Linked DNA regions of Homo sapiens: region 2 is linked to region 1. Evidence: fine-mapped expression QTL. A gene starts in region 1. The other region holds a variant in brackets. All regions are shown on one strand. Distances are between the middles of the regions. Region 1 holds the start of ZAP70 (zeta chain of T cell receptor associated protein kinase 70). Region 2 overlaps ZAP70 (zeta chain of T cell receptor associated protein kinase 70).

Region 1 (5,367 bases):
CGGTGGCGGGCGCCTGTGGTCCCAGCTGCTTGGGAGGCTGAGGGAGGAGAACGGCGTGAACCCGGGAGGCGGAGCTTGCAGTGAGCCGAGATAGCGCCACTGCAGTCCGGCCTGTGTGAAAGAGCGAGACTCCGTCTCAAAAAAAAAAAAAAAAAAAGTCACCATTTTTCTGTACACCCAGAGGGAATCCAGGAGGGGCCCTGGATGGACCTGTTTCCTTTGGGGCTCATTGCACTGGGGTGTATCTCCTCTCGGGCCTGCTGGAGCCTCCACCCTATCTCCCTGCTGCACGTCTCCCAGCAGTGGCTTGTGTTCTCTTAACTGTGCAGCCAGATTGGACCTGCTCAGCTCCAGGTGAAATGGACAGAAAGCCCATCCCTGCCCGGTCTGAGGATTGGGAAGCCTTCCTGGAGGAAAACACGCTTAATTGGAGACCTGAAAGAGGACTAGGAAATAGGCAGGTGAAGAGGTGTGGGCAAAGACCTGAGGATATGGGGGTGACTGATGAATTTCTTCGAGGCTCTTGGCATGAGTAGAGTGAATGTTTACCCCAACCCGATGAGGCAAAGGCACCGCAACTTTCCTAGCCCACATTTCCATCCGTTTGCCCTTTACTGTAAACATTCAAAAGATGCATCCACCTCCTTCCACTCTGGCAGAACAGAGGACCTTATCTGCATGCCAATCTCGGATTATCTGTAGCCCAATCTCAGAGCTGTCTGAGCACTGGGCTTTGTAGTTTCCAGACCAGCCTCTGGGACAGGAAGTGGGGGGCTCAAGGGTTGTAGGGCCAGTGCCTTGCAGAGGCTGGGAATCCCCTTCTCAGGACCTGAAGACCCTGGAAACTGGAAGCCCCCCACCCACACAGAGGCACCCTGTCCCATAGCTGGCTCAGCTTCCAGCTCCCTGGGGCGCTGGCCTCCTTCGGGGAGATATTTTACAACCAAAGTTTTCTTCTTTTATGTCCAGCAGCACGTGGGTGGGGTCAGGCTGCCTGGGCTGCAATCCCACCTGGCCACTTGGCATCTCTTAACCTCTCTGGGCTTTACTTACCTTATCTGGAAAATAGGTTGAATGGCTTATTAATTGTGATGTGCGTACAGCAATGTCTGGCACATAATCAGTGCGACTCTCATTATTGTAGTATGAATGTGATTTGATGCTGTAATTTCTCCTCTCTTCAGGGTGCCGGTGTCTTTTTCTCTCAATACTCCAAGAAATGAGCGTCCAGCATGGATGTGAAGGGATGCTTGCTGCACCTGGAGTTTCAAGATGCCGCTGGGGAAAAGGGAGGCTGCTAGCAAACACCATTTTGGAGGGGGCTGTATGAAGGAGAAAAGTAGCCTAGAGCCGGAACTCAGATTTTCTAAAGGGGATTCAGGCGGCCAGAGGATAGTAGAGGGCCAGAAAGGAGGTCCCCAAGGAGGCTTCGGGGTAGGGTGTGAGGGGATCCTCAGGCAGACTGGGGAGCTGAGCCTGTTGTAACCGAGCGAGTTACAGAGAAACGCCGCACTTTGAGACGAATTCAGGGGTCCTTTATTAGCTGGCGACTGAGAGACAGCTAGTGCTCAAAATTCTCTCAGCCCCAAAGAAGGGGCTTGATTTTCTTTTATACTTTGGTTTAGAAAGGACAGGTGGGGGTCTAAAACAATCTTACAGAAGTAAAGCAGGCAAAAAGTTAAAAGGATAAATGGTTACGGGAAAGCAAACAGTTCCAGGTGCAGGGGCTTAAAATCTATCACAAGGTGATAGACACGGGGCTTTGGGCGTTATCAACCGGACACAAACGCCGGGGCTCTGGGTGCTATTAACCGGGCGAATTCCTGGGAACTGCGGATATAGCTTGCCACAGTATCTTATCAGTTAATTGCATTCTTGGATGTGCTGGGAGTCAGCTTGCACAAATTAAGTCCTTGAGGAAGCGGGGTGGGTAAGGGGCTGCAAATGAAAGAGCCAAGATGGAGTCTGTCTGGCTCTCTTAGCTAAGGGAGAGTCAATTCAGGTTAAAACAAGGTAGGGTATCACAAGCCCACTTAACAAGGGCAGCAGGACCCCAAGAAGAAAAGCTTTAGGAGTCTCCACAGTGGGCCCAGGGCAGTTCCACACAGGTCTCTGAGGCCCCACAGACAGGAGAGCTGTGACGACTCCCTTAGTGCCCAAGAAAGCAAGGAGGTGGTGGGCAAGGGGCTCCCAGAGGCCTTGGGGCACTAGAGGGGAGATGGAGCCGAGGGAGTGGCTCTGCAGGCCCCTCTCTGAGAGAGTGCATGAGGTGTGGCCCCAGGCCCAAGGGTAGGGGGTGCACAGGGTGAGGGAAGGGAGGAGAGGAAGAGGAGGAGGAGGTGGTGGCCACAGCGGGATGGCACTCAGCCAGGTTCAGCTTCGTGGGAAAGGTCCCAGGTGGGCCGGGCTAGCACTGGGGATGCCCTGGCTCTGTGTCTCGGTTGGGTGGCTGACTCCTCCTGGAACGCATCCCTGACATCCTCCAGGCTGGCTTGGGGATACTCTGGGGACACACAGTGCCCAGGCTTCCGGCCTCCCAGCCCTGGCTCCCTGTGGACTCAGCTGCCCCCAACAAGCCTGCGAGCCACTGGAGAGCAAGGGCAGGCTGTCCTTGCCATCCAGATGCCTGGCACAGAAGGGGTTCTCACCTTCGGGGTATGGGCTGACTCAGTGGGTTTCTCCTCCCTCCAGCTCTAACCTGCCTGTGGAATAAACAAATCACTCCTCTGGGTTGTCTAGCTGGTGCAGGCCCCAGGGCGACGCCCCTTTGAGGGGAAAATGGGGGCATTCCAGTTTCCATGAGCCCTGGGACTCCCCTCCTTCCCACCACTGCTGCCTACCCTCCGGTTCCAGGTATGCAGGCTTCCTCCCTTCTGACGGTTCCTGCTGCTGGAGTCGTCCTTCCTGAAACCCTGCCTTTGCTTAGCCTCATTCCCATCTCTCAGTCCCATCCTGCAGCTGGGCAGGCAGTGCTGGGCCCCGGAAATGCCCTCTGCCTCCCTGGAGCACGTGGCCTGTGATTTTCCTTGAGCACAGCACTTTGTGACTTTGATGTAAACATCAAACACAGCCCCCTTTCCTGTCTTCGCATCCAGGAAATAGGTTAGTTTCAGACAAGCCTGCTTGCCGGAGCTCAGCAGACACCAGGCCTTCCGGGCAGGCCTGGCCCACCGTGGGCCTCAGAGCTGCTGCTGGGGCATTCAGGTAAGCGGCTGTCCTCGGGCCTTCTGCCTGTGTCCTGCCACCAGGGCCACCCCAGGGGGCTCTGGGAGACCTGGCAGAGGATGAACCCCCCCCATCCATGAGTGAGAAACCCTGGCGGGGTGTGACATCCTCCCCCGGGGTGTGTGCGGAGAGTGTGAGCGGCAGGGCCTCCCTCTCAGGCTGGGGGCTTGGGCTGCAGGGAAATCCAAACCGGCTTTGTAAGCCCCGATTCCTCACCCAGAACCGGCTCTCCATTGGCATTGGGACCAGAGACCCCGCAAGTGGCCTGTTTGCCTGGACATCCACCTGTACGTCCCCAGGTAAGTGGTGCCTGGGTGGAGTGGCACCTGGCCACCGTCTCCATGGTGGGCTGTGTCTGGAGGAGGAAGACAGAATATTAACTGGGAGTCAGGAGGTTGCTGGGAGGACCAGGAGAGCTGGAGGACTGGGCTGGGTGGTGACTGGCTGGAGATGGAGGCAGACGGGGCTTGTGGCCACGCTGAGGGAAGCAGCTCCCCCTCCAGAGGCTTGGCCGAGCGGGGCTGTTCAGGGGACACGGTGAGGCCTGCTCAGTCCCTGGGCTCCTGCTGGGCCCTGTTTGGCTGCATCCTTGGCTCTCGGAGGCAGAGAAACCTCCAGAGAAAGCGCATGTGCACTCTGTGAAGATGAGGGGGCTGCTCACCAGGGCCGTGAGCTCCATCAGCAGAATGCTGTGATTCCTGTGAGGAGTCCAGGGCAGGCTTGAGCCACTTGTAGGCGAGCTCAGGTTAGAGGAAGACCTGGAGAGAGAAAGAGCAAAACACCGAGTTCTCCTCAACTGCTGTGTGTTCTCGGCAAGTTGCTTGGCCTCTCTGACCTCAGTTTGTGCATCTGTTAAATGCACATGCAGATATGGGCACCTGGCAGGCGCCTGGTTCCTGACTGTTGGCGAGAGGCTGGGAAATGTGTCCCAGGTAGGAAGCATCCCCGACAGGAAGGAACAGGAGTTCATGAGGTGAGCAGCTCGAGATGATTCATTACTCTCGTCTTGGTTGGAACAGTAGGCAGACAGGAGGTGTTTAATAATGCCTTGCTGAGAGATCAGGGTCAGGGACTCCTAAGGTGCCACCTGTGAAGCTGCCTCCTGCTGAATCCAGAGCTTCCTTTTCCTCTTCACACCTGCCCTCCATCCTCAGCCCCACTGCCCTGGCAGTGTTGCGGGGGTGGTGTTGATGTGCACACTCTGGAGCCTGGGGGCCTGGCTTCACATTCTGGCTCTGCCACTCACCAGCTGTGTGACTGGACCAGTCACCGCATCTCTCTGTGCTTCCCTCCCAGGGCTCTCGGGAGGATAAAGAGAGTGACTGTATCCACACTGCCCGGCACATACAGGTGCTGCAGAAAGGTCTCACTAAAACCCTCATTATCCTCACTAGCTCTGGGTGGCCTCGGGCTCTGGACTCCACAGTTCCTGTATGCTCTCCGGGGCTGCAGCACCCAGACCACCCCGTGCTGACCACTCCCTGCCCCACCCCAAGGTACAGGGTTAAGGCAGCCATTCTCATCAGAGCCAATTTTACCTCCTCCCGTCTCCCTGGGACAGTTGATAGTGCCTGGAGACAGTTTGGGTTGTGACCCAGCGGGTGTTACTGGCATCCAGCATGTCCAGGACAGGAATCCTGTGAACAGCCTACAAGGCCCAGGACAGTCCCACCCTGTTCCATTGTCTCTATCAGCCCCTATCCTCCTGACTCACACCGCCTTTTCCCATCTCCCTTTTACAGTCACAGAGCCTGAGGCCCAGAGAGGGACCGCTGCTTGCTGAGGTCACACAGGCAGTGGAGGCCGGAGTTGGGGGCCTCACTGGAGGGGCGGTGGAAGGGCATTGTTCAATCAACAGACACTTGGAGAGTGTGCTGGGTTGGGGAATCTGACCCTGACCCCGCACCAGCCCAGCTCTCCAGGGTCTCCTAATAGACATTTGCTGGAGTGGTTAGTGCTGGCTGCTGCATTGGACAGACCTGAGTTCAAATCCTGGTGGCCCCTTGCAGGCTGCATGTTCTGAGAGTGACATTGACCTCTCCGAGCCTCAGTTTCTTTAGCTGAGGAGTGGGATAACAGTTCCCACCAAATGTAGTTGTGGTGAGAATTAGAATAAATGGCTAATGCTCGCAAAGGGTAGTG
Region 2 (5,367 bases), 27 kb after region 1:
CGGCCCGCAACGTCCTGCTGGTTAACCGGCACTACGCCAAGATCAGCGACTTTGGCCTCTCCAAAGCACTGGGTGCCGACGACAGCTACTACACTGTAAGCCTCTGCCCCTGTGATGCCCGACTGGATGGGCTGGGTGGGTAGAGGGTCCCTGACCCCTGATCCAGCAGCATCTCCCCCTCCCCAGGCCCGCTCAGCAGGGAAGTGGCCGCTCAAGTGGTACGCACCCGAATGCATCAACTTCCGCAAGTTCTCCAGCCGCAGCGATGTCTGGAGCTATGGGGTCACCATGTGGGAGGCCTTGTCCTACGGCCAGAAGCCCTACAAGGCAGGCGCGGGCAGAGGCAGGTGGGCGGTGTGGTGGGGAGGGGGATGAGGAGGAGGACACTGGTCACTCACAGGTGTCTCTGCCCCGGCTTGAGCAGAAGATGAAAGGGCCGGAGGTCATGGCCTTCATCGAGCAGGGCAAGCGGATGGAGTGCCCACCAGAGTGTCCACCCGAACTGTACGCACTCATGAGTGACTGCTGGATCTACAAGTGAGTGCCAGTGGGGAGGGGACCCGGCTGGGCTGACCCCTGGAAAGTCCTGGTGCCCGATGAGTTGATGTCAATATAACTCTACCCAATGTCATCTCACCCAAAGCCCTTCACCCAGTTCATAGCCTTTGCAGCTGCCCCCTACCCCCACACCCAGCTCTCCAACACACCAGGGTTTGCTGTCCTGCTCCAGTGTGCCACACCCTGCCATCCCACCTGTGGGCCTGTGCCTCAGCATCTAAAACCTCAGCCATCACTCAACACATGGACCCTGCAACACGCAAACAGGTCCATACTCTGCTACTCAACCTATGACACTGACACTCAGGGCATGAGATGATTCTCCAGTACCCAACACTCCAGTCCCCACCAGCCAGCACACAGCACCCAACTACCAGACAGGTGAGCACTGAGGTACCAAATACTCATCTATTCCAGCCCCCACCTCTGCCTGGTTGAAGCCCAACCTTCAGACATCTCAACTCCTAACACCATCAGTATCCCAACTTCCCATCAGACAACAGGCAACACACCCCCAGACAAGCGGACGCCCTAGACTGCCCATGCAATGTGTGGACACTGTAACGCATGACCCCCCACCGGCCAGCACTTAGCATGCTGACACCCCAACACCCAAGCAGCCCAACAGATAGACACCCTCTCTGGCTGGCCCACCCTCCTGCGACATGTGTTAATTCCACCTCCATCAGGAAACACCCAGGGCACCACACCCCAGTACCCAAAGAGGCTAGCACCTAGCACCCCAACACAGTCCATGGATACCCCATGCACAGTACCGTTAATACTGCCGCTCCCCGCTGGCCAGACCCACTGCCATGCTCCAGGCTTCTGCTGATCACCAGCCTTGCACTCCCTCTCATCTAAGCCCCAGCACACTGATACCCTGGCCCCAGGTGCATGCACAGAGCATCAGCTTTCTATATCCCAGGTCCCCGTGGTCAATAGTTGCCACTCTGACACCAAGTCCACTCAGTCCCCTGAGTCCTCACTGGTCAACGCTCGGTAGAGGGGTCATCCCAGCACCCTGTGTGTGGGCAGCTCTGCCTCCTTAGGCTGTGTGGCATTGCCCAACGCTCTCACACCCCAGAGTCCTCTCCACCACCCAATGTCCCGCCACCCCAACAGCCCTGCTGACTTTCTGAGCCCCAAAAGTCTACCTCAGCCAAGCACAGTGCATGCCCACCCACTGGTGAAGCTGGGTCCTGGGGGCGTGGTCAGCAGCCTGGATGTACCCCACGCCCCACAGGTGGGAGGATCGCCCCGACTTCCTGACCGTGGAGCAGCGCATGCGAGCCTGTTACTACAGCCTGGCCAGCAAGGTGGAAGGGCCCCCAGGCAGCACACAGAAGGCTGAGGCTGCCTGTGCCTGAGCTCCCGCTGCCCAGGGGAGCCCTCCACGCCGGCTCTTCCCCACCCTCAGCCCCACCCCAGGTCCTGCAGTCTGGCTGAGCCCTGCTTGGTTGTCTCCACACACAGCTGGGCTGTGGTAGGGGGTGTCTCAGGCCACACCGGCCTTGCATTGCCTGCCTGGCCCCCTGTCCTCTCTGGCTGGGGAGCAGGGAGGTCCGGGAGGGTGCGGCTGTGCAGCCTGTCCTGGGCTGGTGGCTCCCGGAGGGCCCTGAGCTGAGGGCATTGCTTACACGGATGCCTTCCCCTGGGCCCTGACATTGGAGCCTGGGCATCCTCAGGTGGTCAGGCGTAGATCACCAGAATAAACCCAGCTTCCCTCTTGTCTGAGCGCCCTCATCTTTTCCGGGGTGAGGGTAGGTGTCAGGGGAGGGGTGGGTTATGAAAAGTGCATGGAGGTGACTGTTCTTGTGTGGACTGAGCCTGGAAGTGACCCCTGGGAAGATGGGGCTGGGTCCCACTCTCCACCCTAGGGACACCTTCATGTGAGTGAGCGGCTGGGGTGGAGTGGGGAACCTGAGGCCAGGCGGGTGTGGGCCCAAGGGCTGCGTGCCTGGCTGAGCCCAGCTCCCCTGTGTGGAGATGAGTGTGCCCCATGCCAGGTGCACGTTAGGATCACCTGGAGCTATTTTAACAAACGCTAACCCCCCCTCCCCCATCCAGCTGGGGTCTTCACCCCCCCAGGGGTGCCTTGCAAATCATGAGATACAATG[C/T]TTTTCATTGGTAGATGCACGTATTAGCTCCCGTATGAACCGTATTACTGAATTTGAATCTGAAAAATACCAAAATGCAAACATTGTTTTTAAATTAATTGTTTTAAAAGCTAATGAACGAATTAAGACAAATTGCATCAATTTAGTGGTTTCTTAAATCGTGGTTTGCAGGTAGTTCAGTTTTATTAAAATTCATTTGTGAGTCGCTGAACGACTTACATTATGTAAAATATATCAGACAGTAAATGAATTGTGGCTTTCATTGCCTTTTGGTCATCATTATGTTTCATGTCATCATTATTGATGAAAGTAATCTTATTTTATAAGAAGGAGGCATTAAAAAATGGGTGTCAAGTACATTGGGAACGCTAACAGACCCACCAGAGATGTCCGCTGAGGAACCAACGAAAGAGGGTGCAGTTCCGCAGAGCACTCTCCAGGTGGCGATGTTTCCAGAGGCCGAGGCCAGCTGGGGTCAATCCCGCCCTCACTGCCTGCTTCACCTCTGCACGTCTCCTTTTCCGCTAGCAGCACGACCTCAGGCCCTCACCTCCAGGTCCCCATTCCTGTCCCCTGTTGGGGTGATCAGACCCAACACCAGGTCGTGGGGGTGACAAAGTCCGGCAGAGTCAAAGGATTGAGAAAAAGACAGTTTGAGAGATAAAAGTGGGACACCAGGGGGTCATCGCCATCATGGAGGCTGCGAAGACCCTGAGCTCTGGGAGCCCACGGTATTTATTTGTAATCCAACAAAGAAACAGGTGGTGAGAATGTGGCTGTCAAAAGGACACGTTGCATTAAGCACATGATTTACAGCTGTGATGGTTTAGCTTTTCTACGGAACATGTTCTGCTACTTGAGATAATGGGAATACAATCGATCTAGGAGCCTAGGAAGGCTAGAAGCAAGGAGCCAGCAAGTCTAGACACGTTCCAGAGGCCATTATTTCAGTCATGCAAGCCCCATCTCAGTTTCCCTCCCAACACTCAGCTTTTTCCCAACAGTCCCCTGGAAGGTGCTTGCAGGATCTTTTCTCTTGGCGGCTCTGACCAAGCCCCTTCACCCTCCTCCAGGGTTTCCAGCGCCCACGCGGACTCCCCTCTGGGCCTCTGCATTCACCGCTGCCGCTGCCTGGAAAGCTCTCCCCGTCCCCACCGGTGATGTCCCCTAGGAAAGCTCCCCGTCCCCCGGGGTGATGTCCCCTAGGAAAGCTCCCCGTCCCCTCCCGGGTGATGTCCGCTAGGAAAGCTCCCCGTCCCCCCCAGGTGATGTCCCCGAGGAAAGCTCCCCGTTCCCTCCCGGGTGATGTCCGCTAGGAAAGCTCCCCGCCCAGGCTCCCTGGGTATGGAGGAGAGGGGCTGAGGGACGCAGTTTCTGATCACTGCTTGCACACCTCCTGTGATGGGCAGCTCATCCATTACCTCTCAACGCAGCCTGGGCTGGTAAGTGAGTTACAATTCTTAGAAAGGTTTTCCAGCTGCTGACACCAACCTTGACCCCCATTCCCTTTACCGTTCCAAGACCATACAGAGCACACCTCTTCTCCAAATATCTCACTCCTCCTCTATTGATCATGTGCCTATTCCAGACGTGTGTCATGAGGCACACAGGCTCAGGGTGATAACCACTGGCATGGTGGCAGCCCACTGGGCCCTGGAGGTCCAGAGAAGCTCCTGAGCCAGCTGAGAGGGGCCAATCTGGTGGGCTTCCTGTAGGAGGGAACGCCTTAGCTGAGTTCTGAAGGGTGAGTGACATTTGGTTGGGGACCGTAAAGAAAGTATCCCAGGGAGCAGGAATAGTGTGTAGTGGGAGAGAATGTCCTTCTGGAAACAAAGAGAGGTTTTGGCGGGGCTGGAAGGCTGAGTTTGGAAATGGGAAGAAAACGCAAGGCCTGGTGCGGTGATCAAGATGGGAGGTCAGTAACATCCTCTTTGTTTCATATTTCCTGACTCCTTGGCCAGGAAGCAACTAACATCTCCATCTACCAGGTCCACGGCTTCCTAGCATTGGGTTTTACCATTTTAAAAACATTTTTTAATTTTAGATGGGAAAAATATCTTATTGTGTAAATTAAGACAAATTAGCATTTCTCTTGTAAGTGGCGAAGTTGAGCAGTGTTTTCAGATGTGCGCCAGCTTGACAGATGCCACCTCTTGCTGTGAACGTCTCATGGCCTCATGCCCAGCACAGAGCTCGCACCTTCTCAGGCCCCATCCTCTGCTCTGAGCAAAAGGCCAAGGGCGTAGGCTGCCCTGTGGCCACATGGGTGAGGATATGGTGAATCAGTTTCCTGTTCTGCTTCCATTCACCTTTTGTCCCTTCAGGGTTTCAAATTTCTCTCTTCTCTGTTGGAGGCTGGGGTCCCATGTGCCTGTAGCTTTGTCCTTGTCTGAGGTATCTCTGAGCTCAAATTAGAGGGCTGTGAAGCCCCAGGAAGGTATTTGTGGGAGGCAATTCTGATGTGCTGGGTGCCTCGAACACACAACTTCCTGTTTAATTCTCAAAACATCTGCCTGGGGTGGGGACTCTTGAACCCATTTTACAGTTGAGGAAACCAAGGCTCTGAGGACTTGGTTTACAGACCCAACATGCCCACTATCCCAAGGCCAATATGTAAGAGGCAACTCTATTGGCAGCTTTTCTGGGCTTCATTTAACAAACTCCTCTGTAGACATTAAGGTTCTGTTTA

What was found.
Region 2: its variant is fine-mapped to the expression of ZAP70 in unexposed skin (GTEx, PIP above 0.99).

What each region holds. Positions count from the first base shown.
Region 1 is chr2:97,710,471-97,715,837 of GRCh38, forward strand. ZAP70 (zeta chain of T cell receptor associated protein kinase 70) reads left to right here and starts at 3,106. Exons shown (of 14, transcript NM_001079.4): 1 at 3,106-3,204; 2 at 3,446-3,524. RefSeq lists a silencer at 751-940 and enhancers at 2,914-3,887, 5,119-5,367.
Region 2 is chr2:97,737,571-97,742,937 of GRCh38, forward strand. ZAP70 (zeta chain of T cell receptor associated protein kinase 70) reads left to right here. Exons shown (of 14, transcript NM_001079.4): 11 at 1-95; 12 at 187-327; 13 at 425-537; 14 at 1,805-2,290. The coding sequence ends at 1,928. Among named protein-coding and RNA genes, the nearest start is that of ZAP70, 27 kb to the left of the region's middle. RefSeq lists an enhancer at 1,990-2,489. The variant C/T (reference allele first, on the strand shown) is at 2,679.